7 separate regions of the Homo sapiens genome follow, and regions 2, 3, 4, 5, 6 and 7 are each reported to be linked to region 1. Evidence: microRNA targets listed by miRTarBase, many of them from high-throughput screens and not tested one by one. Region 1 holds a microRNA gene; each other region holds the end of a gene's coding sequence.
Evidence for each region. The annotated mature microRNA hsa-miR-370-3p reads GCCUGCUGGGGUGGAACCUGGU and lies in region 1 at 1,305-1,326, shown strand. An mRNA with a match to its seed (bases 2 to 7 or 8) in the 3' UTR can be bound and repressed. Matches are read on the target gene's strand: a 7mer-m8 pairs with bases 2 to 8, a 7mer-A1 pairs with bases 2 to 7 and ends in A, and an 8mer does both.

Region 1 (4,074 bases):
TACCCCCTTCCTGCTTTATTTTCCTCCCTAGTTCTTACCACCATCTTTTATCCCATGCATTAGGCTTACCTTTTCTGATGATTTTCTGTTCCTATCTCCACCCACAGGGATGTTAATTCTCATGGAACCGGGATCTGTCCGTTTTGCTCACTACTGTATCCCTGGCACTTAGACCCAGCAACAATACAAAGTGCATGCTCAGAAATTTTGGGGAAAAATTTATGAGATACTATTGAATTGTATCCACCCCAGAGGAGTGTCAATGTATGCAAAGTAGGCAGTGTGGTGCTTGGTACAGAGTATGCATTCAATAAATATTGGCTAATTATGATTATTATGTCTAATTCACAGGACTGTTGTGAGAATCAAACGAGATAATGTATGCTGAGGCATGCTGTGAACACTACGTGCTGGGTACAGGAGGTACAATATTAATGATCCCTGCTGCTTGGAGGGAACTTGCACTTAAAATGTTATGCTTTTCATTTTCACACCACTTAGGAGGGAGGAAAGGCTGGTGGGACGATCGCCACCTGAGGCTCAGGGAGGGGACAGGCCTTCTCCAAGGCCTCACAGTATGAAGAAGGCAGGGGCAGGTCCCCACACTGGTGGTCTTCCCACGACTCCCTCATGACAGTCCCCCAATGGACAGATTGATGTGTAAATGACGTTATACACCTACACCATAACTCTATATAATATATAGAATTATTTTCAGGTCCCTGAGTTGCTCTGAGGCCAGTTGTGGCAGGTGGTACACACCCAGGACAAGCTGGGGGGAGGGGTAAGAAGGAAACTGGCTGTGTATCTTTGGTAAGGCCCATAGTGAAGCCTCTTTTGGTTTCTTGGAATCAAGTTGAACATCAAGAATCTCACTGCATAGACTTCCCCAAGGGCAGTCCCACTTCACAAAATGAATTTTCATTTTCCAAAGCACATCCCTTAGTTGGATTTCTGTTTTTCAGTGTATTTGTTTAAGCTCTGATGCCATGTCCAAAAAAGAACATGCCCGAACAATTCCCTGCCCGAGTCCCAAACCCTTGGCTTGATCTGAGCATTGAACTAATTCATTTCTTTGATCAAACTGGGGACTGTTTGAGCAGTGGGCTGGGCGTCATGGGACGGGGAAAGGGTGGGGTGTGCGCAGGTGTGCAAGGCGGGCTACTTGAGGGATGGGCGATAGTTCAGGTCACCCTCCGGTTGGACCCACGAGGGCGCTGCATTCCTCATTCTACAAACCGTACAAGTCGGGGCACAAGACAGAGAAGCCAGGTCACGTCTCTGCAGTTACACAGCTCACGAGTGCCTGCTGGGGTGGAACCTGGTCTGTCTGTCTGTCTAACACCAGAGCTCGGGCGCTGCTGCAGAGGGAGCCAAGATTTGGGTGAGGGAGGGGGCTCAGAGGTGGGATGGAGGGTTTTTTTGTATTTTTTTTTAACCTGGTTGCCATTGGCTTGAAAATAATAACATAACTTTGCTTGGGGACCCCCCACTGCAACTATCTTGCTGATGGGGAAACAGGCACAGAGACGTTAGTTTGCTTTGCTGATGTCACCCAGCTCGTCTGGCATTGAGGCTGGATTTGGGAGGTGGGTACTGAGGTGTGAGCATATGTGCTGCAACCACTGGGCCCACTGGCTCGTGGTGTGTGCGCAGGTGCAGATGGCTCAGTGATCTGGGTTTGAGGGCTTTTACCAATCCCCCCAGCAGTGGGTGTACTCTGAACTCAAGCTTGTGTATTTCACACTCTCCCTCGACCCTTCTCTTTAGCCTTCACTGAAAACTCCTGCAAGCCACTGACCCATGGAAAATATTTAAGAATACATATATTACATATATGTTGTAAATTTATATATATATATATCTGGAAAGGGATTGTATCCAGGAGATTTGGGAGTGATTGTTTAAGGTAGAGGGAGGCAGGGGCATGAGAGGGGGAGGGATGGAGGTGGGGACCACCAGTGGTAATTCTCGTGGGTGGTTTTAACAATCAATACAAGAAGAGAGAGACATGCCAGCAGCAAGGACGGGAGTGGGTTGTAAACCAGGGATGGTGATTAATTCTTCACAACTGAGGGGCATTAAAAAAAGAAATCAGAGTGGTTCGTGGCTATTAATTTTGTTATTAAAAATAATCAAGGAATAAAGAAATAAGGTAATAAAGGCCTCGAATGGAACAATTCTGAGAATGTGTTCTGGGCAAAGGATTATGACTAATCCAGGTCTGGTAACCTGATATTAACAAACAAAAAAGGCCTCGTAGGCTATTTTCTTTTTTTAACCGGCTTTATGTTCCATAGAATGGGCACACTGGGGTTTCTCTCCCAGAGAAGGTGAGTGCAGACAAATAAAAGCCGGCTTTGTGGGTGTTGATTGAACAGTTAAAAATGAATGAATGCGTAAATAAAACCAGAGACAGCCAAGCATGTACCAATGATGGCAATGTGTTCCTCACTCCCCAGCTTTATAAATATATAATTGATAAATCAGTATTGTATGTATTTGTATTGTATTTAAATTGTACAGTGTGACATTTTGATATACATATATATTGTGAAATGATTACCATAATCAAGCGAATTAACATACCCATCACCTCATGTAGTTCCGTTTTTCCATGTGTGCAGTGAGAATACTTAAGGTCTACTCTTTTAGCAAATTTCAAGCATGAAATACATTATTGTTAACTATAGTCACCGTACTCTGCATTGGGTTACCAGAACTTACTCCTAACTGCATCTTACTCCTAAGTTTGCATCCTCTCACTAAGATCTCCAGATTCCTCTCACTCCTGACCCCTAGTAACTACCTTTCTAGTCTCTGCTTCTGTGAGGTTATTCCAAAACAAAAGCCAGGTTCTAGGCTGTTGAGGCTGAGGGTAGGAAGTGTATCAACAGGTATACAGAATAGTCACTGGTCTTGGGCTAAATGGTGACTTCAAGTGTAGTGGCTGCATAGTCAAAAATGAATTAGATGAGTACAAAAGTGACGAAATGAAAGAATGTCAAGAATGGACCACAAAGACAGTGTTTTATGACCTAAAGATTAAGATTTATCCATTTGTGTACAATTGTGGACTATATAAAATAAAACAAGACTTTGACCTCAGTGGATAAGAAGTATTTGGATGTACTAATCAATATTTTTGGTCTGGGTCAGTGGTGGGTTCATCTGTGTTTGTTGTATTTAAAAAAATAAATGAAAACATTGAAAAGGGTGAGTAGGAATCAAATATGATTGTCACTCCAAGTCTGCGTCATCTGCATCCGTTAGGAAGAATATCTGGGTTGGTTCCTTCTTGGGTAAGATGCACAGGGACATATGTTTGTGAGAGTCATGATTCTTGTTTTTGATTAGAGTGGTGAATTAATACACACTCATTTGTAATAATACAAATTAATAAATGAATAATTGCGGAGAGCTATGCTTGGGCCAGTGGTGAGACTGTCATGAACCAAAGATTATGATTAATACTGTGCTTCTCACCTGATGGCCATTAAAAAAATCTAGGTTTTTTCATCCTTTTTAATATCAGCCTTGTGTTCCACAGAATGGAGGCTCCAGAGTGAAATTAATGACACTTTGTCGATGAAGATCTTGATTGTGACCTCTGTGGAAAATGAGCCATGAACCAACCAATGTGAGTAATGTTTAGTGTTGTTGTTTTGAAGTTGGGTGGTTGGTTGATGGTTGTTTATTACATTATTAAACATGAATCAATACATAAATAAGGTCAAAGATGACGGGCATGATGAGAATGTCATGAACCAAGGGTGATTAATTTCATATAGCGTAACTGTTACCAAATTAAAAAACAATATTACTGGGCTGTTCTCTGTAGCAAATGAGCAAAGAAAAAAAGGAACACACACACACACACACACGTATACTACATATATATCACATGTATCATGTGTTATGTTTATACATGTATCCTATATATATATCACATACGTAATATGTGTTATGTTTATTTTTCATATTTGCAGGCTGGGGTGGGTTTATATATGTTTATGGGGTAATTAAACATAAATGGATGCATGTATAAACAAGATCAAAGAGAGTCAAGCATGG
Region 2 (4,074 bases), not on the chromosome of region 1:
GCCCTCACGGAGAAGCTTCTCAGGTCTGAGGAGTCCGTCTCCCGCCTCCCGGAGGAGATCCGGAGACTGGAGGAAGAGCTCCGCCAGCTGAAGTCCGATTCCCACGGGCCGAAGGAGGACGGAGGCTTCAGACACTCGGAAGCCTTTGAGGCACTCCAGCAAAAGAGTCAGGGACTGGACTCCAGGCTCCAGCACGTGGAGGATGGGGTGCTCTCCATGCAGGTGGCTTCTGCGCGCCAGACCGAGAGCCTGGAGTCCCTCCTGTCCAAGAGCCAGGAGCACGAGCAGCGCCTGGCCGCCCTGCAGGGGCGCCTGGAAGGCCTCGGGTCCTCAGAGGCAGACCAGGATGGCCTGGCCAGCACGGTGAGGAGCCTGGGCGAGACCCAGCTGGTGCTCTACGGTGACGTGGAGGAGCTGAAGAGGAGTGTGGGCGAGCTCCCCAGCACCGTGGAATCACTCCAGAAGGTGCAGGAGCAGGTGCACACGCTGCTCAGTCAGGACCAAGCCCAGGCCGCCCGTCTGCCTCCTCAGGACTTCCTGGACAGACTTTCTTCTCTAGACAACCTGAAAGCCTCAGTCAGCCAAGTGGAGGCGGACTTGAAAATGCTCAGGACTGCTGTGGACAGTTTGGTTGCATACTCGGTCAAAATAGAAACCAACGAGAACAATCTGGAATCAGCCAAGGGTTTACTAGATGACCTGAGGAATGATCTGGATAGGTTGTTTGTGAAAGTGGAGAAGATTCACGAAAAGGTCTAAATGAATTGCGTGTGCAGGGCGCGGATTTAAAGTCCAATTTCTCATGACCAAAAAATGTGTGGTTTTTTCCCATGTGTCCCCTACCCCCCAATTTCTTGTCCCCTCTTAAAGAGCAGTTGTCACCACCTGAACACCAAGGCATTGTATTTTCATGCCCAGTTAACTTATTTACAATATTTAAGTTCTCTGCTTCTGCATTTGGTTGGTTTCCTGAAGCGCAGCCCCTGTGAATAACAGGTGGCTTTTCATGGATGTCTCTAGTCAGAGAAAAATGATAAAGGCTTAAATTGAGGATTAACAGAAGCAGATTAACCTCAGAAATCCTGTCTGGCTGGCAGATTTCAAGTAAAAAAAAAAAAAAGGTGGGTTGGGGGGACCCTTTTCTTTCTAGTTGTCTTTAAGGAAAATTAATTTTACTTTTTTTTTTGTTCTGGCCGAAATTTTTATGAGATATCTCTCACTTGTCTTCCACTTTGAACCGGTTAAAGCTCATAGCTGTCAGCTCTGAATGAGGAGGGGAGAAGCCCCTGGGTCTTTCTTTGAAAGGAATCCGCTGCTTGAGGGCTGCCTCCCTCATGGTGTGCGTGTCGTTTCTCTTCCTGACGCATCTTGTGATATCAGAGGTAACTATGCAAAGCATCCAGGCGGTTCTGAATGTGAAGCACTACACCCAGCAGAGTCCCGGTGCCCTCTGTCCCCACTGCCGGCCCATGTTCTCTCTCCGGAGGTCACCAAGGAATGCACAGGTTTCGACTACCAGAAAGGGGAGTCCTTGGGTTCTTTCAAAAAATTCGTGAGGAGAGCTGTCTACAGTGGAATAGGGGGTCTCCCTGGGGAATGCAGGCCAAGTCCTTTTATTTTAACATGATGTCCATGAAGAGGTTTGCCGTCTGGGCAGCCCTGTCGGCAAGGAGCGTGCATACTGCGTTTGTGTAATTGTTTGCTGTATCTCCCTTCCCTCTGAGCTGTATTGTTCTTTAATGGCTGTCTTGCCCTTCCAAAAAAAATTGAAAAAAAAAAAAAAAAAAAAACCCGAAAAGTAAAAAAAAAAAAAAAAAGTTTTGTTTAGTTTACTGTGAAATGAACTGTATGGCTTATTTACAGTATTTTTAATTCTTAATAAACACTTGAGCTTTGTTATGACTTTTCCAGAGTGGTTACATTCTGAGAATTTCGTAATTATGATGTGTTTTATTAGCACATGGTATAAACGATTAGCAAATAGGTAAGTTTACTATTTTAAGGCTGTTTTTTCTTTTAATTCTGAAACCGAGATGGCCTCACTCTTGGGCCGGGGACCTCCTTTGATGGACTGTTAGCAAGTGTGTTCAATGATTACTTGTCTCCAGCTCTGTTAGCTTCAAGCACAGGATCTCAACCCTCACTACCTATTAGAATCTTCCTAGGAGCTTTTAAAAAATGCCTGGGCCCTGCCCGCACAGATGCTGATTGAATAGGCATAAAGAGGCTGGCACTGTTTTTTTTTTTTTTTTTTTTGAGACAGAGTCTCGCTCTGTCACCCAGGCTGGAGTGCAGTAGCAGGATCTTGGCTCACTGCAAGCTCCGCCTCCCGGGTTCTGGCCATTCTCTTGCCTCAGCCTCCTGGGTAGCTGGGACTACAGGCGCTTGCCACCACGCCCGGCTAATTTTTTGTATTTTTAGTAGAGACAGGGTTTCACCGTATTAGCCAGGATGGTCTCAATCTCCTGACCTCGTGATCTGCCCGCCTCGACCTCCCAAAGTGCTGGGATTACAGGTGTGAGCCGCCATGCCTGGCCAGCACTGGTATTTTAAAGGCTCCCTCTCTGATTTTAATGTCCAGTCAGGGTTGAGAACCAGTGTCTCAGACCATCTGAGTGACCTTCAGCCCTAGTGCACACCTGGGCTTGTTTCCTTCTCTGGATTGCCTTCCACCCTCCACCCAATAAAAACCACATGCTGTTTATTGAGTACCTGTGTGCCAGGTCTTGTGCTCAGCATGCATAATAACCTGTTATTCCTTCTTACAGTCCCCCGAGGTAGGCAGTATCATTTCCCATTTCACAGAGGAACAGCAGGCTGAGAAGCTTCATACAAGGTCATTCATTACGAAGTGGCAGGGCTAAGCTTTGGACCTCATCCTTGCTCTAACTGGGACAGCATCCTCTACCGTCCACTGACACCAGTGCAGGTCCATTTGGCCTGTGGAATATCTGTCCTGTTCCAGAGCCCAAGGCTGCAAGAGATTTCTTCTTTCCCACCTAGGGAGTAGAGGGTGGCTAGGACCTGAGGTCCTGTGGCTTGATGTCCCCCTTTCTGGCTGAAAGGCCCCTCATCTCTGAATTGCTGTCAGTCACTCTGGGTCCCTCAAAGCTTCACAACTCAGAGCTGGAAGTTTTTTCCAAAGCAGTTAGCAAATCAGGACAGGCTCTGTAAATAATTTCTATTTTTATTTCAAAACCATTTTACTTTTTATTTTAAAGTCTTAAGTATTGACATGTATGCTTTAAATGGCTACTTTCACCCACTTGGGGAGGGTGCGGAACAGCATAAAGTCGCAGGCATGGAAAAAATTAAATTCATTTCCTTTTCAGGCCAATTGGTTGCATTGAGTATGTTCTTGCTGTTTCTCCTGTCATTTCTGCAGTTGCTCATCTCTGACTATGGAGTGGTTTAATAGATTCTCATTAATATTATAAAAGAAAATATTGACAAGTGTCTGATAAATATAAATTCAAGTGGTGAAAATAAAAGGAATATATTAGGAATTCACATATTTCTGATGGTGGGGCAGTTAGAGTTCTTACACCAAATAATGCAGCTCAGTCTTGTTTCTTCATTCAATATAGTGTTCATTCATTCAATAAACATTTATTGGGCTGATAGCCAGCCATTTTGCTAAGTATCAGTGAATTAAAATGTACAGGACTAGCCCAGTGGGAATGACAGTCATGTAAAGTGGTAGGTATTAGAAATACAGGTGCCATACTTGGGTGTATTGGGCCAAGAGGAAGGAGTGACCATTGTGCCATGGTTGGTCTAGAGGTGGTTAGAACAGGTTTTTGAAGGGCTGGGGGAAGTCCCTTGGAATGCTTTCATGAGTAATGGGAAGCTTCGGGAAACAGGTTGTTTTGCCCTTTGAACAAACAATATACACAAATTACTGAACATGTTGGTTAAATTGCAGATCCAGCACCAGGATAAGAGGCTGCAGTGAAACTTCTCAGGCAGGACTGACAGCACCCTGGTGAGGAGACTACTACACCACTGACCATGTGGCCTTGGGCAAGTCACTTAGAATGGTGATGGTGTTGATAATAGAGATGATGGTGGAGA
Region 3 (4,074 bases), not on the chromosome of region 1:
AGTGAGGCACAGGAAGGCCAATGAGTAAGCTCCAATCATACCCAGGTTTGAACCGTGCAGTCACGCCCCAACATCTGGGCTCTTTTTTTTTTCTTTATTTTTGAGATGGAATCCCACTCTGTTGCCCAGGCTGTAGTGCAGTGGTGTGATCTCGGCTCACTGCAACCTCCGCCTCCTGGGTTCAAGCAATTCTCCTGCTTCAGCCTCCGAAGTAGCTGGGATTACAGGTGCGTGCCACCATGCTCGGCTAATTTTTGTATTTTTAGTAGAGACAGGGGTTTCACCGCGTTTGCCAGGCTGGTCTTGAACTCCTGACCTTGTGATCTGCCTGCCTTGGCCTCCCAAAGTGCTGGGTTTACAGGCGTGAGCCACCTCGCCCAGCCCATCTGGGCTCTTTTAAACATTTTTAAAATTTTTTACTACATATATATGTATATGTATTTTTTTTTTTTTGGACAGTCACACTTTGTCATCAGGCTGGAGTGCAGTGGTGCAATCTCAGGTCACTACAACCTCTGCTTCCTGGGCTCAAGAGATCCTTCCACCTCAGCCTCCCGAGTAGCTGGGACCACAGATGTGCAACACCATGCCTGGCTAATTTTTTTGTAGTTTTTGTACAGACGGGATTTCACCGTATTGCCTAGGCTGGTCTCAAACTCCGGAGCTCAACCAATCCACCCTCCTTGGCCTCTCAAAATGCTGGGATTTATTTTTCTTTTTTTCACGTTGGCTTCCACATTAAGGACACCACACCTGCGCTCTTAACTGCTGTCCCCAGGTCTCCTACGTGGTCTTCAGGACTCCAGAGCCTCTGCATAGGCTGTTCCTCTTCTCATTGTGTCTTTTCCCTTCTTTGCCTGGCAAATTCTTGCAAGCACCACCTTCTCTAGGGAGACAGAGGGTCTCTGTAGGACACACCCTCCCCCATGGTCCCTTAGAGCCATCCTCCCAGGAGACTAGGCTCTGCTCACACCTGCCTTCGTGGCACTCCCCACCCCACCAAATAGGGCATAAACAGGCAACGTGGGGAGGACTCAAAACACATTCTCCCGCCTCCCGCAGGTCTTCAGAGAGCTGGAACCTGCGGTGCTGTCCTGCCTCCGAGGCTACAGCGTCTGCATCTTCACCTATGGCCAGACAGGCACCGGGAAGACCTACAGCATGGAGGTGGGACAGAGCTCACGCCCCAGTGGGAGAGGCCCCAGGGGCCCTGCATGACTTGGATGTGAGCCCGGTGTGCACCCCACCCCATCCTCAGGGCCCTCCTGAGGACCCCGGCATAGTTCCTAGGGCGCTGCAGTCGCTGTTCCGGGAGATGGGGGCCGGCCGGCAGCACCGGGTGACACTCAGCATGGTGGAGATCTACAATGAGGCTGTCAGGTGGGCTACTCCACCAGGGAGGCCTTCTCCCCACCCCTGGCCCAGGGCCCTTCCGGATTTCCAGAGAATTCTGGAACCAAGACCTTCCCCTTTCTCACCAGGGACCTCCTTGCTCCAGGGCCTCCCGAGCGCCTGGCCGTGAGGCAGGGCCCAGAAGGCCAGGGCGGGATCCAGGTGGCTGGCCTCACCCACTGGGACGTGCCCAACCTGGAGACATTGCACCAGGTAGGGCTGCACCGCTCTCCGAGACCCCGCCCCGTGCTTCCACTTGGGGGCGGGGACCCTGCACCTGACCAGCCCTTCGCCCCGCCTTCCAGATGCTGAAACTGGGGAGGAGCAACCGGGCCACCGCCGCCACCGCCATGAACCAGCGCAGCTCCCGCTCGCATGCCCTGGTCACGCTGACGCTGCGCGCGGCGTCTCCACCGCGCGCTCCAGGCACCGCAGGTACCACGGCCGGTGCCTGAGCCCTGCGGAGTCTCCAGAGCACCCGAGGCCCGGCCTTCCCCCATGTCGGGCTCGCTCGCCCCTCTAGGCACGCTGCACCTGGTGGACCTGGCGGGATCCGAACGCGCACGGAAGGCAGGGGCGGCCGGCCCGCCGCGGGGAGACCCAGACGGCGCCCGGCGCCTGCGGGAGGCCCAGACCATAAACCGCTCGCTGCTGGCGCTAGGAGGCGTGATGGCCGCACTGCGGGCCCACCGGCCGCACGTGCCCTTCCGCGACTCGCAGCTCACGCGACTGCTGCAGCCGGCGCTGGGCCCAGGCACCACCGCGGTGCTGCTGCTGCAGGTGGGCGCCGGGGCGGGGCAGGTGTGTGCGTGCCGGTCGCCGCCCACCCGGGCCCGCCCACCCGCGCCTCTTGCCCGCAGATCTCCACGCGGCCGGAGGATCTCGGGGAGACAGTCTGCTCCCTCAAGTTCGCCGACCGAGTGGGTCAAGTGGAGCTGGGGCCAGCCCGGCGCCGCAGGGTCCCGCGCTCCTCCGGGACGCCTTCTTCCCTCAGCACCGACACTCCGCTCACCGGGACCCCCTGCACCCCTACGCCGTCCCCTGGCAGTCCTCCATGCCCCAGTCCCGACAACGGCTCGGGCTCGGCTCTCGCGCCCGCAGAGGGCCTGCCCCTCTAGTCCTGGGTCGCGGCCCTGCCCATGGGGTCTCAGGCCAGGTCTCTGCTGGCAGAGGCGGTAGTAAAGTCCCTGTACCCCGTCTCCCAGGGCACAAGCTCCCTAGCCTCTTTGGATCCATTGCCCCTGAGCTCCCAGAGTCACCCCTCCACCTCCGCAGCCAGTGAAGTGTGTTGTGCCTGCTGAAGTGATCACCCCCCGCCCCCAGCCCTGCATCAGGCCACAGGTCTTGGCTTTCTCCTTATCACCATTTGCTGTTATCACGGCACACAGCAGGGAATCCCAGGCCCCCCCGCCAAGTGGTTACCCAAGTCACCACTCCTGACCCAAAAATCAGGCATGGCATTAAAACGTTGCAAATTCCTTTACTGTTATCCCCCCCACCACCAGGACCATGTAGGGTGCAGTCTTTACTCCCTAACCCGTTTCCCGAAAAAGGTGCTACCTCCTTTCCAGACAGATGAGAGAGGGCAGGACTTCAGGCTGGATCCACCACTGGGCTCTCCCTCCCCCAGCCTGGAGCACGGGAGGGGAGGTGACGGCTGGTGACTGATGGATGGGTAGTGGGCTGAGAAGAGGGGACTAGGAAGGGCTATTCCAGGCTCAGCCCTGCTCCTGCAGCTTTGCCGCTGAGTGTAGGAAAAACAGGCATGACAGACCAGGGTGAGGGTTGTGCCCAGCTGGGCCACGGCCATGCGTGGGGTGGCCCAATAAACACCGTGGACTCCCAGCAAGGCTGCTGCCTGGTGTTTCGAGGCTGCTGTGGTCGCAGACAGCCGCCTCGCCTTGGCTCCCTGTCAACAAGGTGGGGGTGGGAGCGGGAGGGAGGAGTGGCCCCTGTCTTAAGAGCCTCACAGGCTGCACCAGGAGAGCAGCCAGCCTGGGCCAGGGGCCGCCAGGTCCCGAGGGTGGCTGACCCAAACGTCGTAGATGCTTTTGTTGGGTGGCACCCCTTGGAAGAGGGCGTCTAGATCGCAGAGCAGCCCTGGGGGCCCTCGGGTTTCAGGGGCCACCCCCCAGTAGGCAGGGCTGGTTGACGGACACTGGGGACAGGAGGTGGGTGGTGGTGCCAAGGGCATTACCACATTGGGAGTGTAGATAGGCAAGTAGGAGGTGGGCAGCTGCCCCCAGAGGGAGGCCCTGTGTCCCCCGCTGGACCGTCCCCCAGGAACTGCGGTGCCCTGCAGTAAGTGGAGAGGCCAGGCCCTAGGCTCTGGGGAGAGGGTTGAGGGCCCGATGGCTCCCCCCTGCACAGTCTCCCCCTCCACTCTCGTGGGGCCAGGAAGGGGGCAGAGGGGCCACAGAGGCCTCTCAGAAGAGGGAAGGGGTGGGGTGGGCACCGCCTCCTCCCCACTGTTCCCTGTGCCTGCAGGAACTGGGCTGCTCTGTGGAGCTAGCCCCGGCCAGGGTGCCCCCTCCCCGGACCCTCCTAGCAGGGACTTGATGCTGAAGCCCTCACTGGGTGGTGGCGGGGGACTGGGCGGCCGGTATGGCCGGCCGTGCAGCACGTAGGGGCCCAGGTCCTTGGCGAAGGCTCCACGCGCACCTCCGTTCTGCCAGCGCCGGC
Region 4 (4,074 bases), not on the chromosome of region 1:
GAGTCCCTCCAGGGCTGAAGATTGGACACAGAAAACTTGGGAACTGTCAACTGCCCTGTTATTCACCTCGTGAAAAAAGCTGGATTTCTAATGAGAGCGAATGGAGGTGACAATTCCCAGAAACTGGAATTGGGATGGTGAGATTTTAGTTCAGCCGCCGGCGGTCTCATGCGTGGAGGTGATAAAGTTGAGCTTTGAGGTGGTCTTCAGAGGGAGAGGAATACCCTCTGCGGGCAGAGCTTCCTGGGTTCCGGGCCCTTCCGGACGTCAACACAGGTCCAAATGCCCTTGGGCTCCTCCGCACACCCTGGGTGCAAGAATAAATCCTTCTCTCTGCCGCCATTAGCCTGACTGGCTTCGGTTACTTCGCACAAAAAGCCCTTGCCGAGCAAACGTCCCCGGTGCTGCTCCAAAGGAGACCCCTGCCCTCCTGGAAGCTCCTCCCTGAGGCCGGGTATCCACTCGCCGCTCGCAGCCCTCGCTCTAGCTCCAGCTCCTGTTCCTTTTCCTGCCCACCCCGCCCAGTGAGGAGATCAGCACCCCTTGTCTGTCTCTGTGTCTGTCGGGGTTCGTGCCTCACTGTGTCCAAGCCCGGCTTCTATCCCTAGTCCCTTCCTGTTCGCGCCACTCCTGCTTGCTTTCTTCTCCCCTTCCCTCCAGCGGTGGTTCCAAACCTTCTCTTCCATAAGACCCTCCATTCCGTTTCCCAGAGACCCAGGGGTGCCCCTCGCAGGGGCAGAGGCGCAGCCTGTAGTGGATCTCCCTCCGCGCAGGGCGGGCAGTCTAAGGTCATTCCCGGTCACCCTGCCCCCTCGCTCCCATTGGCTCTGGGGAGGGCACGTGACTCAATCCTGGCCAATGGCGTGGCGGGGCCTGTGGCTTGCTGCCGGGCAGGCTTTTCTAGGAGCTTCTGGGGTAACGCCAGAGAAACCTGCTAACACACAAGGTTAGCTGAGAGTGAGCTCAGTGAGCTTTCCCTTTGAAGAAGGCGTGGGTGAAGGGGAGAAGGTTCAGGAGAAATCAAGGGGTCAGGAGTAGTTCACTCAGTCCCCTTTCACTCTGAAGGAGCTCACCTCTCCCCAGTACTGTCCAGTGGAAAGGCCACTCAAAGCAACTGAGAGAGACCTGCTTGTGTGAAGAGGTAGAGGTTTATTGAAATATAAACATTCGAGAACATGTAAGATAGAAAATAACCACAACATATAGACACTTGCTGCAGGAGGACATCTGAGGTATTTACTCACTGCCTAGGCTACCCATGTGCTATCACATTTTTCCTGGTTAGAATACATATAAGATGGAGAGCAGGAGGGGACAGAGCTGCCCTGGCTGATGGCACCTTCAGGGGAAGCTCTGCTTGGGCCAAGGCCCCACTCGTGGGGGCACCTGCTGGCACCCCTCATCGGGCTCTGGGTGACACCCTGCTGTTGTCCTTGAGGGCAGTGAGGGTTCACTCCAACGGTGTGGCCAGGCGAGCTGCCTGGGGAAAGGGAGAGGATCCAATGACCGGAAAGACACAGTGTGCTTTCCCTGCATCCTCTGGGTGGGAAGAGTCCATCCTTTGTGACCAAACCCCTGAGAAAGACATACTGGCCAAATGTCTGAGACACCTTCAAATGGGCCCAGTGCCAGCCAACTGGGCTCCTCACTGGCACCACGTCCCAGATGCCCTTCTCTGCCCACACCCTGCAGGCTGAGGCCAGAGGAGGTCAGCCCTCGGGAGATGGGGTATGTGTGTGTGTGTGTGTATGTGTGTGGGAGTGGGGGTGAGTGTGTGTGGAGGGCTGAGAGAAGACGCAGTTGAGCAGAGCTGCAGCTTACCGGGCTGAGGTATCTGTTTGTGCTCAAGCTTTTGATTCCCTTTCCTCTCCTACACAGGACTGAATGCGAGCCACGCTGCCACACACACCCACGCCACGCGCGGTGTCTCCCACTGCCACAGCCCCATGTCACAGTGGTGGTGTTCTGCTGAACATTCCAGGGCTTCCTCGACTGAGGTGAGCCGCAAGCGAATCAATTTTCTTTACAGCACAGGAGCTGCCTGCTCCCGCGCAGGGTCCAGGAGGAGCTGTGGAGTTATTCATCTCCTCATACCCTGGGGCGGCTCAACCTCTGGCAAGGCCAGCGAGGACCCCAGCCTGCCTGTGCCCTGAGCTGGGAATGCTGAGTGATGGGGAGGTGTCCTCTGCCTCCCTGGTCAGCTGGGGGTGGGGGTGTGGCAGAAAACGGTCTTCAGAACTGGTACAGTTTCAGGGCCCGACCCGGTGTGAGAGCGGGCCTCTCCACTCCACCTCCCCGCCCCCGCGATCCCTGAGTCGTCTCCCCTGCATGCCTCCACCCACCTCCTCACTGGGCTTGAGGGAAGGGCCAGAGGGGCCGGGTTACCCAATCACTTGCTTGGCTTTGGGGGTGATCTGTTTTCATTTCTTTGGTGCTACGATAAAAATTTTAAAATAAAAAAAAAACAAAAGTCAGCAAAACACATATAAAAAAGATTTCAGAGATGCAAATACTTCCTGAAGACTCAAACATCAACAATTACAAATCTGAGGTATTTCAATGAACCTGACATCGGCACGTGTGGGGATGGTGAGGCCAAGATGGCCCCATAAGAAATAGAAGAGGGCTGAGCTGAAGAAGGCTGAAGAAGGCTGGGGAGGACTGGGGAGGGCTGAAGAGGGCTGGGGAAAGGATGAGTGGGCTGTTTTTGGGAAAGCAGGCCAATAAGGGCAAGTGGGGAGCATGAGGTTTGGCGGGGGCGGTCAGAGAATGGTCCGTGTGAAGCAGGTGCCAGGGCTGGGCAGCCCCGAGGCTCTGCCTTCCCATCAGCAGATGCCCTGTGGGCCCTGGCCCTGAACTGCCCTCACAGCCTCTTCCTTCAGACTATTAGAAGGGGGATCTGGGGCCCTGAGGACTGATTCAAGACTTGTGTTTGAGGGACCCGTACCCCAGGAACCTAACAGTAGGCAAAGTGGGCTGGAAGGGCCCCATCCCATGCTCTGCAGAGAAGGGCATGAAGGCATGCTCTTGGCTCCTGGCAGCCCCACATGGGACTTAAAAACAGGGGAAGAGACTAGTGGCCCTGGGGTCATGGCAGAAGGCAGGGTCAGGGAAATAAATTAAAAGGGGAGGGAAATGGAGGGCCTCCAGCCCTGCGTCGGCTGACAGATTGTCGATACACTGTGCCCTGAGCTGGGAGGTGGCTGGGGAACCCTGGAGGAAGCTGGACACCCACAGACCCCCACCCAGTTCTCCAGGACAATCCCTGATTGGACAACGCTGTCTGTCCTGCCCCTCTAGCCTCTCCCTGCCCCCAGAGTACAGCAGGACCTGAATGGAGCCTGGACAGACGGACACGTCCAAACTCTCAATGTCTGGCCAAATGGTGCTCGTCGACGTGGGCTCTGTGAGATGAGGTAAATTCTGTGCATCAACTTCCTTCACTCTCGACAGGAGAGTGGCAAGTGGGAAGCTGGGTCCTGCCCATCAGAGGGACCAGCTGGTGGAGGGCTCTGCGCTGGGGGTGCCCCGGGATGAGGTAGGACTTGGTGAACAGTGAGAGCTGCTGCTGCTGCTGGCGCTGCTGCCGAGGCTCTGGGGAGCAGACCCCGTGATGAGGTGGACCACAGGCTTCTGGGCAAACAGCACACCTTGGTGGGTGGAAGAGAAGCAAGTGTGGGCAGAGGAAGAGCGAAGGGGAGGGCCAGCTCCTTTCAGTAAGTATTCACCGCTGGCCTAGCCTGTGCCTGACTCCGCTGTAGACACTGTGCTAGGGGGTGATGGGAGAAGATCCAAATGCTGTCCTGCCTTGAAGTGCTGATGGGCTGGGGAGGGGGACAGATAGGTCGACAGAGTAATTTTGCTAAAATGTCATAAATGCTCTGAGACAAGGTGTACCCAGGGTACACAAAGAGGAACACCAAGGCCAGGTGTGGTGGCTCACAACTATAATCCCAGCACTTTGGGAGGGTGAGGCAGGAGAATAGCTCAAGGCCAGGAGTTTGAGACCAGACTGGGCAATACAGCAAGAGCCTTGTCTCTATAAAAATTTTTTTTAAAATTAGCTGGGCATGG
Region 5 (4,074 bases), not on the chromosome of region 1:
AAGAGAAGGTATGAAATGTACTCTACTAGATAGATCCATCGCCACGCTGGTCTCCCAAACATCTCCAAGCATTGAATTCCTCAGGTGTCAGTTGGCCCAGTGAATCACCCAGGTGCTAAATCAAATGGCTTCAGTTCAAGGCGTTCCTTGAAAGGAAAGTGTTAGAACTCAGGAAATCCGCCTTCGCAGTGGGCTCCAGGCCTTCTCTCCCAGGCTCGAGGTGGAAGGCGCTCTTGGGTGCTGGGTGTGCCAAGTGGTCACCTCGTGTGCCCCTGTCTTCCCTGCAGTGGCCGACATCCCCGGCATCATACGAGGCGCCCACCAGAACAGGGGTCTGGGGTCCGCCTTCCTCAGGCACATCGAGCGCTGCCGCTTTCTCTTGTTCGTGGTGGATCTTTCTCAGCCTGAGCCGTGGACTCAAGTTGACGATTTAAAATATGAACTGGAGATGTATGAAAAGGGCCTGTCTGCGAGGCCCCACGCAATCGTCGCAAACAAGATTGACCTCCCTGAAGCCCAAGCCAATCTGTCCCAGCTCCGGGATCACTTGGGACAGGAGGTCATCGTGCTGTCGGCGTTGACCGGCGAGAACCTGGAGCAGCTGCTGTTGCACCTGAAGGTGCTGTATGACGCCTACGCGGAGGCCGAGCTGGGCCAGGGCCGCCAGCCGCTCAGGTGGTAGCCACGCCAGAGCGGGGTCGCCTCTGGGCCTCTGTCTGAGCAAACCTGGGTGTGAATTCGGTGGTTTTGAATGCATAAAGTGCCTTGTGGACACGGGGGAGTTGTGGTGCTTCTGGGTCTCTGGGCCCCGCCTGCTGGCCTGAGATGCCCTCATGTTGGGAAGCATTCCGTGCCCCCTACCCCGCCTGCCCTCCGTATTTCCTGCACCTGTCAGCCTGCACCGACTGATGAGCCAGTTGCTCATTTGTGCTGATTAACACCCCTAATAAGGGGTTGGGGTGCCCATAACGGGGTGGCCCTGCCGCTGACTCAGGTCTCCGCCATGCACGCGTGGACTCTCGGATGAGCTCAGCAGAACCGCACAGCCAGAGCCCCAGGTCAGAAGTGCAGACCAGGGTTCTCAGCACAGTGCCCGTCGTGCTTCCATGGCTTGCTACGGAGAGAGACCTCTGGATCCACACTGGGGCTGCGTCTGGCCCGTTGTCCAGCAGCCCTGCGGTACCGCAAGCCCAGGCACCAGTGTCTCGGGGGGCCTCACTGCTGCGCAAGGGGTGGGGCCGAGGATGCAAGTCCAGGCAGAGCGGCGCAGGCAGCTGTGAGCTTTTCTCCATCAGCCGTCTGAGAAGAGCAGTGAGGCCAGCTGCTTCCTGTCCTTCAGAACACTTCTCTGTGCTCAGTGGGAGCCAGGAAGCCTCAGGCTTCACGACTGAATGCACCCAATATCCGACCTGGCTGCGTGTTTCTGGCTGGGCTGCCGTGTGCACAGCAAGTTAACTAGAGGGGCTGTGGGCCATGGAACTGTCAGCGTTATTCTCAGAAGGCGGCCGTGGCATGGGCAGGGTATAGTGAGGAGTGGAAGGAGACGTGTGCCTGGTAATATGGGGCGGAATTTCCACTCAGCTCCATTTGCTGGGGATTTAAAGAGAACCCTTGTGCTACGCCAGGCAGTTACCGAGCCGAAGGGAGATGATGGGCCTTCGCCCCTCAGTGGGATGGCAGCTGAGGGGGCCCTGCATTTGACCGTCGAGACTGCAGCAGCGCCTTTCCTGTCTGTGGTTTAAGTCTTTGCAGTCAAGTACTGATGCATCCAAGCCAGGCCCATGCCTGGTGTCTCCCTGACTGCAGAGGAGCCCCAGGGCAAGGACAGCTCAGCTGCTGGCAGCCTGCCTGGCCCATAGACATCCCCCAAGTAGTCTCAGGCCTCTGACATGTCCCTGAGGGGCCCCTAAGAAAGAAAGTGGAGGGGACACTCCAGAGGCTGTCGTGGGAGGATCATGTGAGCCTGGGAGGTCAAGGCTGCAGTGAGCCGTGATTGCACCACTGCACTCCAGCCTGAGTGACAGAGCGAGACCCTGTCTCAAAAAACAAACAAACAAACAAACAAAAACAGAACATTCTGGGCACGGTGGCTCATGCCTGTAGTCCCAGCACTTTGGGAGGCCGAGGCTGGTGGATCACAAGGTCAGGAGATTGAGACCATCCTGGCTAACACAGTGAAACCCCGTCTCTACTAAAAATACAAAAAAATTAGCCAGGCGTGGTGGCGGTCACCTGTAGTCCCAGCTACTCGGGAGGCTGAAGCAGGAGAATGGCGTGAACCTGGGAGGCGGAGCTTGCAGTGAGCCGAGATCACACCACTGCACTCCAGCCTGAGCGACAGAGCAAGACTCCATCTCAAAAAAAAAAAAAAAGTGGAGGGGACAAAGAAGCAGAGAAGGATGATCAGAAGGGGACCCCCAGCCCTTGGAGGAGAGACGGCAGCCTCAGGTGAGATGAGCCGCAAGGGTCCGGGGCCGCGTCTCTGCACGCTGGGGTGGGGCGCGCTTTGCACAGCAGGCCGGTGCCTGGGCTTTCAGGAGCAATTCCGTTTTGATCTCACATCAAATCTGCAGCTAGAACATGACAGTCCTTTTACCCGAAGCTTTATTTTAATGTCTTATAATTTCAAAGGTCCTTCTATCCTAGAAACCAGAGATGGGTTTTGCATCTATTTGCTTTTTCTTTCAGGCCGCCACAAAGGATTTTGTGGAGTCGCCCCAGGCCTGACGGCGTTAATTATCCCTGGCTTTCATCTTGATGCTCTTGCAGGGGAGGCTCAAGATGCCTTGTGGCTCGACCCCTGCACGGAGCCCCCAGCCCAGCCTCCCCGTGGGTTGAAACCTTGATCTGGGCCTGACTGTGGCTGCTCTGGGGACATGCCCTCGTCCTTTGCTGAAGCTGAGGCTCCAGAGGGGGAGTCACTGCCACGAAGGTTGCCCAGAACTTTCCTTGCTGCAAAAAGCCCCAAGACTTCTCCCTGCCACACACACAGCTTTTGCCATCGCGTTCTAAAAGCTGACAGCTTTCTCTCCAACACTGTTCTCCCTGAGTAGGGTAAAGCTACACTTGGCTTCCCCAGTTTCCTGTTTCCTGCCTAGAAACAAATTTTTGTCAGTCTGCTTTTCAAATGGGATATATGATTCACATACCATAAAATTCACCACTTTATATAATTCAGTGGTTTTTTTGTATGTTCAGAAGGTTGTGCAACTGTCAAACTGCAAATTCCAGAACGTTTTCATCACCCCGAAAACAGACCCTGTGCCCGTTAGCGTGAACCCGCCTTCCCCCTCCCCCGGGCACCCACCCGTCTACCTTCTGTCCCCAGGGACCTGCCTTCCAGACAGATCCTGTAATTGGAGTGTACACTATGTGGCCGTCTGTGCGGGTCTTTAGTAGCCATGCCTGAGGCGGCCGACACCGCAGTCTTTAGTTACGGAAGGGACCGCGGGTGCAGGCCAACCCCCCCACAGTCAGCATGTGTGGGCTGCCTTGGACACAGGGTCTCTGTGTATCCCCAGCAGCCTCAGAACACCTGACCCAGAGACGGCGTCAGTAAGCGCTGGCAGGTGCACGGAGGATGGCGCTGGCATGAGGAGCCTTCAGGCTGCTCCTAGTTTTAAACTATTTTTACTTTTGTTTTTATTTTTTTAAGACAGAGTCTCACTCTTTCGCCCAGGCTAGAGTGCAGTGGTGCGATCTCGGCTCACTGCAACCTCTGCCTCCTGGGTTCAAGCGATTCTCCTGCCTTAGCCTCCCAAGTAGCTGGGATTACAGCCTGCACCACCACGCCTGGCTGATTTTTGTATTTTTAGTAGAGACAAGGTTTCACCATGTTGGCCAGGCTGGTCTCGAACCCCTGACCTCAGGTGATCTGCCCACTTTGGCCTCCCAAAGTGCCGGGATTACCGGCATGAGCCACTGCGCCTGGCCTGAAACTCAGTGTGTGTGTGTGTGTGTGTGTGTGTGTGTGTGTGTGTGTGTGTGTGTGTGTGTGAGAGAGAGAGAGAGAGAGAGAGAGAGAGAGAGAGAGATGGAGTCTCACTCTGTCACCCAGGCTGGAGTGCAGTGGCG
Region 6 (4,000 bases), not on the chromosome of region 1:
ACTTTTCTGTGCCCTGCTGACGTGACTGACCCGAGAACCTCACAGAGAATCCTCGAGGTGCTTCCTGGCAGGAGAGCAGATGTGATTCTGAGCGACATGGCGCCCAATGCCACAGGGTTCCGGGACCTCGATCATGACAGGCTCATCAGCCTGTGCCTGACCCTTCTCAGCGTGACCCCAGACATCCTGCAACCTGGGGGGACATTCCTTTGTAAAACCTGGGCTGGAAGTCAAAGCCGTCGGTTACAGAGGAGACTGACAGAGGAATTCCAGAATGTAAGGATCATCAAACCTGAAGCCAGCAGGAAAGAGTCATCAGAAGTGTACTTCTTGGCCACACAGTACCACGGAAGGAAGGGCACTGTGAAGCAGTGAGGATTTCTTGTGCCATTTTCATAATGGTCATTAGCTCCTTTTAAGCTAGAAACGTAGCCTGAGCTCCTGAAGAGTTCCTGGGAGATTTGAGCTGATTTTGGAGATGGAGCAGGACAAGTGGGGAGTCTCTCTCTCTCTTTCTCTCTCTCTCTTTTTAACCAAAAAGAGATGACAAAACTAAGTTCAGGGGCCATGGAAAATGAAAAAGTCCGCTATATTGTGATTTGGGAAGAGAAAGTTATCAAGAGAAAGAGGTGAGGATGGAAGGATGGAGAAAAACAGACTGTGGGAAGGATCAGAAGGAATCCGCCGAGGCAGGGATGGGTGTGCCCATGTGTGCCTTGACGGGACTTCATCTTATAGACTGTTAAACTGTCACACACAAACAGGCTTTCCACCCCTGCTCTGAGAGCACCACGCACAGATTTCCAGTTCTTAGTGTGGCTGTTTAAAGTAGAAAATCTGGGGGCTGGGTGAGGCCACTCATGCCTGTAAACCCAGGGCTTTAGAAGGCTGAGGCTGGGGGATTGCTTGAAGTCAGGAGTTCAAGACCAACCTGGGCAACATAGCAACACCCCCCATGTCTACAAAAATGAAAAACCAAAAAGCAAACCAAAAGAAAAATCTGAAATTTCCATCTGGGGATTAACTTCTGTCTTTCTGGTGAACAATATAGCAATTCACGCATTCTTCAAGCAGCAAAAGTTCCCGGAACAATTAGGGAAGACGTATGGTCTGAATTTATCCAGGCAGTGGGTCTGCTTTGGTTTTTGCTGGAAATTTATATCAGTGTCTGGGCTCCCAAGAACATAAATGTAATTGCCAAAGCAAGCAGTGATGTGGTGTGTTTATTTTCTTTTACTCATCTAGGAACTTGACGCAGCTTTATATTTAATAAAATAATAGAGATTGCATTATTTTAAGGTACTTTCATGCTTTGAAGTTTTGTTTTTTTTAAACTGGCTTCCTCAAAGCCATTTCCTGGAGGTGTACTCATCCCTCAAGAAGAGTTTGTTGACTATGATTAAATTCCAAGGACCAGTGGGGGAAGTCTGGAAACCCAGGAATCTCCATCAGGAATCTGGGGCTCTGTCCAGCTCCCCGAAGGAAACTGCGGGTCAGATGTTTTGATTTTTTTTTTTCTTTGAGAAACAGAATCTCACTCTGTCACCCAGGCTGGAGTGCAGTGAAGTGATCTTGGCTCACTGTAAGCTCCACTTCCCGGGTTCACGCCATTCGGCCTCAGCCTCCCGAGTAGCTGGGACTACAGGCGCCCATCACCACGCCCGGCTATTTTTTTTTTTTTTTTTTGTATTTTCAGTAGAGACGGGGTTTCACCGTGTTAGCCAGGATGGTCTCGATCTCCTGACCTCGTGATCCGCCTGCCTCGGCCTCCCAAAGTGCTGGGATTACAGGCGTGAGCCACCGCGCCCGGCCGCCAGATGTTTTGACTTTTCATTTTATTTCTGGTTGCAGTCAGGTTGTTAAGTCCAGGGACTCTTGCCCTACTCCACCTCGTTCTCTTATTCCATTTCATTCCCGGGGCACACAACTTGGAAGTCTTTCTCTGAAAGAAGGAAAATTCATTGCAGACCCTTAGGAACAGCATCTTCTTAGAGGGAAGCCAGGGGCTGGGCAGAGACGGGAGGAGGAGAGGAAGAGAATATGGAAACGAGTAAGGCACACTCTTCTCAGGAAGGCTCCAATTTGAAGGATAGACAAAGGTTACCATAATAATGGTGGGGCCTGACCTCACCCCATTGGATGCTGTGCCCTGGCTTGCAGAGCACTGGGAAGGTAGCCTAGTAGCATAAATTGCATTTCTAGTGGGCCCAGAAAAAAGCAAAATAACGGATTGATTCAAGCTGATACTGAGTAGCAAAATTTTGGGAAGAGTCAACGGTGCAAGTTTGTCCGAGGAGGCTGCCGTGGGCGCGGCTATTCCACACATTACGGCGCGAGGCGAAAGCCTTAGTGGAAGCGCGTCCTGCGCAAAGCCGGGGGGCCCCCGACTGCGCCTTGGCTCAGCCTTCGGTTCCGAGTCCTTTCCGTGCGGAGTCTCCCAGGGGTGGCGGCTCCGGGTGCGGACGCGGAGTCCCCAGGATCAGCCGGTGCGCAGACTCGGTTCTTTACGGCCCGATTGCCACGCAGGTCTCGCGAGAGCGCAGGCGCAAGTGTCGCGATAAATGGGCGCCGGCGGAGCGGAGGGAGATCCGAGCGGCGGCGGCAAGCTGGCTGCGAGCGGCTGAGGTAAGCGGCCCGGCTCGCGCGGGCGGCGGGGTCCCGGGGTCCCGGGGGTCCCGGGAATGGCAAGGGAGGGGCCGAGGGCCCGGACCGGGTGTGCTCGCCAGGGTGGGGCACAACGACCCAGACCCCGTGCCTCAGGACCCCGCGCCCGCCCCGTCTCCCATGGGCGCGCTCTCCTCTCTGTGCTCTCCCCTCCTCTCCCCACTCCCCTGTCCCCACTCCCCCTTTGGGCTGTGCTGGGGACAGCGGGCCCCTCGCCTGGGTCTCCGCAGCCGTCCCTTGTGCCAGGGCGGGCGGCCGAGGGGCGCGTGCTCGTGGTCCCAGCCCCGGGGTCCCGCTGCCTACCGTGTGGGTCCCCGGGCTAGGGTGCCGGCGCGCCGAGGAAGGGGCCTGAGCTGGCGCCTGGTGGAGAAGTCGGGGCTGCAGGGGCTCTTGGCATCCTGGTGGCTCGCGCCGGTCCGCTCTCAGGAAGGGGGCGTGTGGGCCCGGTTTCCCCTCGGGGATGGCAAGGGCCACCCTGATCTCGTTTGGGCAATGGAGGAATTGGGCTGTGGAGCCTCCTTCCAGGCGGGCCTGCCTCTGCGGGGCTGGCAGCCTGGGGAGCTCAGGCCTCTGCTTGCACCAGGCCAAGGTTCTTGTTAAATGGAAACTCAGAAACTGTGCAGCTGCAGAAGTTCTACCTTTGGCTTTTAAACGCGCTTGGCTGTTCCCTAGTTGTGGCTGGTGGGCCGGCCTGCCATGAGCCCATAGTAAGCGCCGGTGTTGGGGGTGCAAAGTTCTTTACTGCGGTTTGTCTTCAGCCTTCCAAAGCCAGACAGACCCAAGTTCCAATCTCCGTTCTGTAACTTTTTGAAGCTTCGGTTTCATCATCTCTAGAATCTGTGTAAAAAGACCTAATTCACCACCCTGTTGAGACTGAGCTTACAAATATAGTGCTGGTCAACCTGCAGCCGTATTCCCATCATCTAGCGGTGGAAGACTTGAGGGATATTGGCCCCGTTCCCCACAACTTTGCAAGTAGATTTCACTGTCATGAGTTTACAGATGAGGAAACTGAAGTTCAAGAAGTCTCGGTGCTCGGAAATGTCAGATACCTTTCTTTCTGATACCTAGTTGAAAATAGTAGTAGTACTTATTAATGTCACTAGAAATAAACAATGAAAATGAGCACAGCTGTGATGATCATCATCTTTACTGTCACTGTTGCATGCCTCGTTTCTGATTCCCAGAGGCCAGATTTTTTTTTTAATTAATTATTATTATTTTTTGAAACGGAGTCTTGCTCTGGCACCCAGGCTGGAATGCAGTGGCGCGATCTCAGTTCACTGCAACCTCCATCTCCTGGGTTCAAGAAAATCTCCTGTCCCAGCCTCCGGAG
Region 7 (4,074 bases), not on the chromosome of region 1:
CCCATCTCTACTAAAAATACAAAAATTAGCCAGGCATGGTGGCATGCGCTTGTAATCCGAGCTACTCAGAAGGCTGAGACAGGAGAATCGCTTGAACCCCGGAGGCAGAGGTTGCAGTGAGCCGAGATCGTACCACTGCACTCCAGCCTGGGCGAGAGACAGACTGCATCTCAAAAAAAAAAAAAAAAAGTTCCTTTCCTCAGTTTGCACTAGTCACATGTGGCGAGTGGCTACCATACTAGACCGTATAGGCACAGAACATGGCTATCATTGCAAGAAGTTCTGTTGGACAGGGGTGTGGGAGTGAGTGGGGCTCTCACCCGGCTTCCTAGGAGGGAATAAGGGCCAGGCATCTGGGGAGGTGGGAAATGATGATACATTGCCCGAAATGCCACTAAGAACTCTCTTTTGTTTCTCAGGATAACAAAACCAAAACGTGGCCACCCAAAGCACCCTGGCAGCACCCTTCCCCGCTTCCCAGCACGCTGCCCAGCCCCAGCGCACCACTCTATGCAGTCACCAGCCCTGGCAGCCAGTGGAACGACACCATGCAGATGCTGCAGTCCCCAGTGTGGGCCGCAACCAACGACTGCAGTGCCGCTGCCTTCTCCTATGTGCAGACCCCACCCCAGCCCCCACCCCCACCAGCACACAAGGCAGCACCCAAGGGCTTCAAGGCCTTCCCTGGGAAGGGTGAGCGCAGGCCAGCCTATCTGCCCCAGTACTGACCCCAGGCCAGCCAGCCTGCCTGCCTGCCTGCCTGCCCGCCCAGAGCTGTGGGGATGAGTGTCCCCACCCCAGGGCCACTTAGCTGACACCAGCCCCTCAGAGGACCAGTGCGCCCCATCCCAGGGAGGGTTCCTTGGGGACAAGGGTGGTTGGCAGCTCCAAGCCTTTAAACCTGGCTTCTGAAACGATGGCATCAGAGCCCTGGAGAGCCAGCTGGAGACACAGGCGTCTGGCCTTCAGGGGCTTGCTAGGGAACCTGCATGCCTAGTAAGCGCCACAGGTGACTCTGATGCAGGCGCCACAGCCACACTTGAAGAAACACAGCTCTTGGGTTTTTAGTCCTGCTGTGTGTTGGGAAGACATCAGGCCTGAAAGCTGAGGGCATAACTGACCATTTTTTGGAAACCCTCTCCTCCCTCCTCCACACCTTGAGTGATGACCACACCAATCACTGTATTTTATAGCTTTTTTTTTCATGTAGGTTTTTAGTTAAAACATCTCCTGCCTAAAATGCATTGAATATTTTAAGATAACAGATATACTGGCTGGAGGTTTGTTTAACACTATCTATATTTAAGCTTATACAAAATGGGCAAAATATAGAATATTTGTGATTGGAAGCAGTCACCTGGGGTTTCTGGGGGTGGACAGTTCCTCGCCACCCAGCAGCACCCTGGGACTGCGGCCTTTCCCAGCTTTATTGAAGCAGAATGGTGGAACTTGTGCCGGAGGTACACTGCTGAAGGTGCGTGGCGGTGGACCAGCCAGCTGCTGTCCATGTGCAGAGCAAGGCTGCACCTGCTGCCCTTCGATCCTTCCACACATGGCCAGGACACTGCCACAATCCTCGGGGTGTGGTCAAGGGGCACTCAGAGACACCTGCACTAGAAATTGCATTGACATTGTGAGCTGGCTCAGAAGACAAACCAATTAAGATGTAGATAGAAATTAATTTAAGGTCTTTTCTTAAAAAAAAAATCCACCTCATTTTCAGTTAACATGTGCCATTAAATAGATAACATCCTGTGGATTTAGGGATATTTTCCAGCCAGAATGGATCCAGAAGAATTGAATGGTGCTTAAATTGAGAAATAATAATAAATATATCTATATAGAATAGACATATCCCACTGTATATTAATTGAGGTTACAGAAAGTTCTTTATATAAAACTTATTTAAATTTTTCATATTTCATCTTTGAAAAAGTCTGAGAAAAATCCATAATATTTTCTGGTATGAAAGTTTGACAGTATTAATATTTTTTTTATATTTTCTTAAATCATTAAACCATTTTAATATATGTTAACTACTAATAAATGGTTTATTCTTTCTAACTCCATATAAGCTTTTCCAGCAAAGATTGTAATAACACATTTATGTTCTCGTTTTTCTACAGATATAAGTAAATTTATATATAAAAATACCAAAAAGAGGCTGGGCGTGGTGGCTCACGCCTGTAATCCCAGCACTTTGGGAGGCCGAGGCAGGTGGATCACCTAAGGTCAGGAGTTCGAGACCAGCCTGGCCAATATGGTGAAACCCCATCTCTACTAAAAATACAAAAATTAGCCGGGTGTGGTGGCGTGCGCCTGTAGTCCCAGCTACTCGGGAGGCTGAAGCAGAAGAATCGCTTGAACCCGGGAGGCGGAGGTTACAGTGAGCTGAGATTGTGCCACTGCACTCCAGCCTGGGTGACAGAGTGAGATTCCGTCTCAACAAGAAAAAAAAAAAAGAATATATATATATGTATGTATGTATGTATGTAAACACACACACTAATTTGAGAGGACCCGTAGGGTGTCTGAGCCCAGCCACCTGAGTTTTTAGTACTGTGTTGTCAGGCTCTTCCCAGGCCTCAGGTGTTGTCTTTTGTGCTGTGTGGGGATGCATTGCTGCCTGTATTTATGATCTTTTGCCGTGGTTCTGAGCATTCACCTCACCATGTTTACAAAGAACTGTTTTGTATATAGACATTTTCAGGCACGTGCTTTGCACCAACCCTGCGTGGCTCTTGTCTGTGTTAGCTGTCACGGTGTGCACACTAATCTCTGTTAAAGTTGTCTATGGCTGTTCTACTTGTAAGATAGTTTTCTATTTCCTTCAGTAATGTGTCCACAGTACCCTGTATTTCGAGTTCCATTATACTGAAGTACTCATGTTTTAATAGTGCCTCTCCAAAGGCCTCACCTTGGACAGAGGTCAATCCTTGATGCTCCAGCACAGGTGACGTCACTAATTGTCACTTTCCAGTTTGTTTTTCTCTATTAAGGAAGACATTTTCTAATTGCATCTCCATGGGCTGTGAGACTGTGTGAAGCCGTTTGTGTGGTCTCCATGTAGGTGCTGTGTTCCCGGCACCGCCTTGCTCTGAACACTGGTAATTCCAGGTGCTGCGCTTGGCAGAGGGGTCTCGCCAAAGCGCATGTGTGTGCATGTGTGAACGTGTGTGTCCTTTGCATGGTTGGGCGTGGGTGCCTTGCTAGGGCATCAGCAGGACATTGTGTGTATAGTTACAATGCTTCCAAACTGGAACTCTACATTTTGTATCTTTTAAAGCTCCTATAAGTAAAATAACTATTGGCTTTATTAAAAATATACATTTAATAATACTTTGTATCCTTGTTTAAAATGAACTGCAGAGGACATTATGTCAAAAGCCCTGCCTGACTCATTGCTTTGAAAAGCTGCATACTGAGTTGGTTTTTAGGTCAGCCTGTCCTCTGATTCTAGCAAGGGGAAGACCACTTGGGATATTACGGTGAGCTGAAGTGGATGGGCAGGAGGGAGAACAAGCAGCTACGCCTCCCCTATTGGCTTCCCTAAGGCCCAAGCTGGTTTAGGCCCCTGTGCAGGGGGAGCCAGTGCAGTAGTGAAGGAGACGTCCTCTGCAAGGGTGCAAGCTCTCTGGGTTGGGGTCTACCAACACCCATGTTCCACCAAATGTGGATGCTGTGACTTGCCCAGCCAGCTTGTCCAATGACGAGACCCAAGAATGAGGGCTTGTTTTACCCTCTTCCCAAACCAGGGACCCAATCTATGGCAGAGATACTGTGCCTTACAGGGATAAGAAGGACCTGTCTCTGCCGGCCGCAGTGGCTCACACCTGTAATCCCAGAACTGTAGGTGGCTGAGGCAGGTGGACCACAAGGCCGGGAGATCGAGACCATCCTGGCCAACATGGTGAAACCCCATCTCTACTAAGAATACAAAAATTAGTCGGGCATGGTGGCGTGTGCCTGTAATCCCAGCTACTCAGGAGGCTTAGGCAGAAGAATCGCTTGAACCAGGAAGTCAGAGGTTGCAGTGAGCCGAGATCGCACCACTGCACTCCAGCCTGGCGACAG

Region 2: the mRNA of CKAP4 is a reported target of hsa-miR-370-3p. The part of its 3' UTR that is shown has no 7-base or 8-base seed match.
Region 3: miRTarBase lists FOXH1 as a target of hsa-miR-370-3p. Seed matches in the 3' UTR shown: 7mer-m8 at 2,686-2,692.
Region 4: the mRNA of ARID3B is a reported target of hsa-miR-370-3p. Seed matches in the 3' UTR shown: 7mer-m8 at 1,421-1,427 and 7mer-m8 at 1,386-1,392.
Region 5: miRTarBase lists MTG2 as a target of hsa-miR-370-3p. Seed matches in the 3' UTR shown: 7mer-A1 at 2,261-2,267 and 7mer-m8 at 2,512-2,518.
Region 6: miRTarBase lists MRM2 as a target of hsa-miR-370-3p. Seed matches in the 3' UTR shown: 7mer-A1 at 483-489.
Region 7: miRTarBase lists GARRE1 as a target of hsa-miR-370-3p. Seed matches in the 3' UTR shown: 8mer at 3,219-3,226.

Annotation. Positions count from the first base shown.
Region 1 is chr14:100,909,882-100,913,955 of GRCh38, forward strand. MIR370 (microRNA 370) reads left to right here and starts at 1,258; the gene lies at 1,258-1,332. MEG8 (maternally expressed 8, small nucleolar RNA host gene) reads left to right here. Exons shown (of 51, transcript NR_146000.1): 8 at 352-423; 9 at 3,551-3,640.
Region 2 is chr12:106,235,709-106,239,782 of GRCh38, reverse strand. It overlaps CKAP4 (cytoskeleton associated protein 4), which reads left to right. Exons shown (of 2, transcript NM_006825.4): 2 at 1-1,902. The coding sequence ends at 759. Among named protein-coding and RNA genes, the nearest start is that of CKAP4, 10 kb to the left of the region's middle.
Region 3 is chr8:144,470,880-144,474,953 of GRCh38, forward strand. It overlaps FOXH1 (forkhead box H1), which reads right to left. Exons shown (of 3, transcript NM_003923.3): 3 at 2,533-4,074. The coding sequence ends at 3,359. It overlaps KIFC2 (kinesin family member C2), which reads left to right. Exons shown (of 18, transcript NM_001369769.2): 13 at 1,063-1,167; 14 at 1,259-1,380; 15 at 1,482-1,605; 16 at 1,698-1,827; 17 at 1,916-2,172; 18 at 2,253-3,323. The coding sequence ends at 2,510. Among named protein-coding and RNA genes, the nearest start is that of FOXH1, 2.9 kb to the right of the region's middle. RefSeq lists a silencer at 1,563-1,622 and enhancers at 2,525-3,420, 3,421-4,074.
Region 4 is chr15:74,595,187-74,599,260 of GRCh38, reverse strand. ARID3B (AT-rich interaction domain 3B) reads right to left here. Exons shown (of 9, transcript NM_006465.4): 9 at 1,130-3,650. The coding sequence ends at 3,487. CLK3-AS1 (CLK3 antisense RNA 1) reads left to right here. Exons shown (of 9, transcript XR_007064715.1): 9 at 1-342. Among named protein-coding and RNA genes, the nearest start is that of CLK3-AS1, 19 kb to the left of the region's middle. RefSeq lists enhancers at 679-973, 248-1,136, 1,752-2,252.
Region 5 is chr20:62,200,396-62,204,469 of GRCh38, forward strand. MTG2 (mitochondrial ribosome associated GTPase 2) reads left to right here. Exons shown (of 7, transcript NM_015666.4): 7 at 288-3,173. The coding sequence ends at 682. Among named protein-coding and RNA genes, the nearest start is that of HRH3, 18 kb to the right of the region's middle.
Region 6 is chr7:2,231,497-2,235,496 of GRCh38, reverse strand. It overlaps MRM2 (mitochondrial rRNA methyltransferase 2), which reads left to right. Exons shown (of 3, transcript NM_013393.3): 3 at 1-1,302. The coding sequence ends at 375. MAD1L1 (mitotic arrest deficient 1 like 1) reads left to right here and starts at 2,552. Exons shown (of 19, transcript NM_001013836.2): 1 at 2,552-2,625. RefSeq lists enhancers at 1,167-1,699, 2,434-2,563, 2,349-2,643 and silencers at 2,278-2,656, 2,634-3,053.
Region 7 is chr19:34,352,228-34,356,301 of GRCh38, forward strand. It overlaps GARRE1 (granule associated Rac and RHOG effector 1), which reads left to right. Exons shown (of 14, transcript NM_014686.5): 14 at 420-3,339. The coding sequence ends at 728. Among named protein-coding and RNA genes, the nearest start is that of GPI, 11 kb to the right of the region's middle.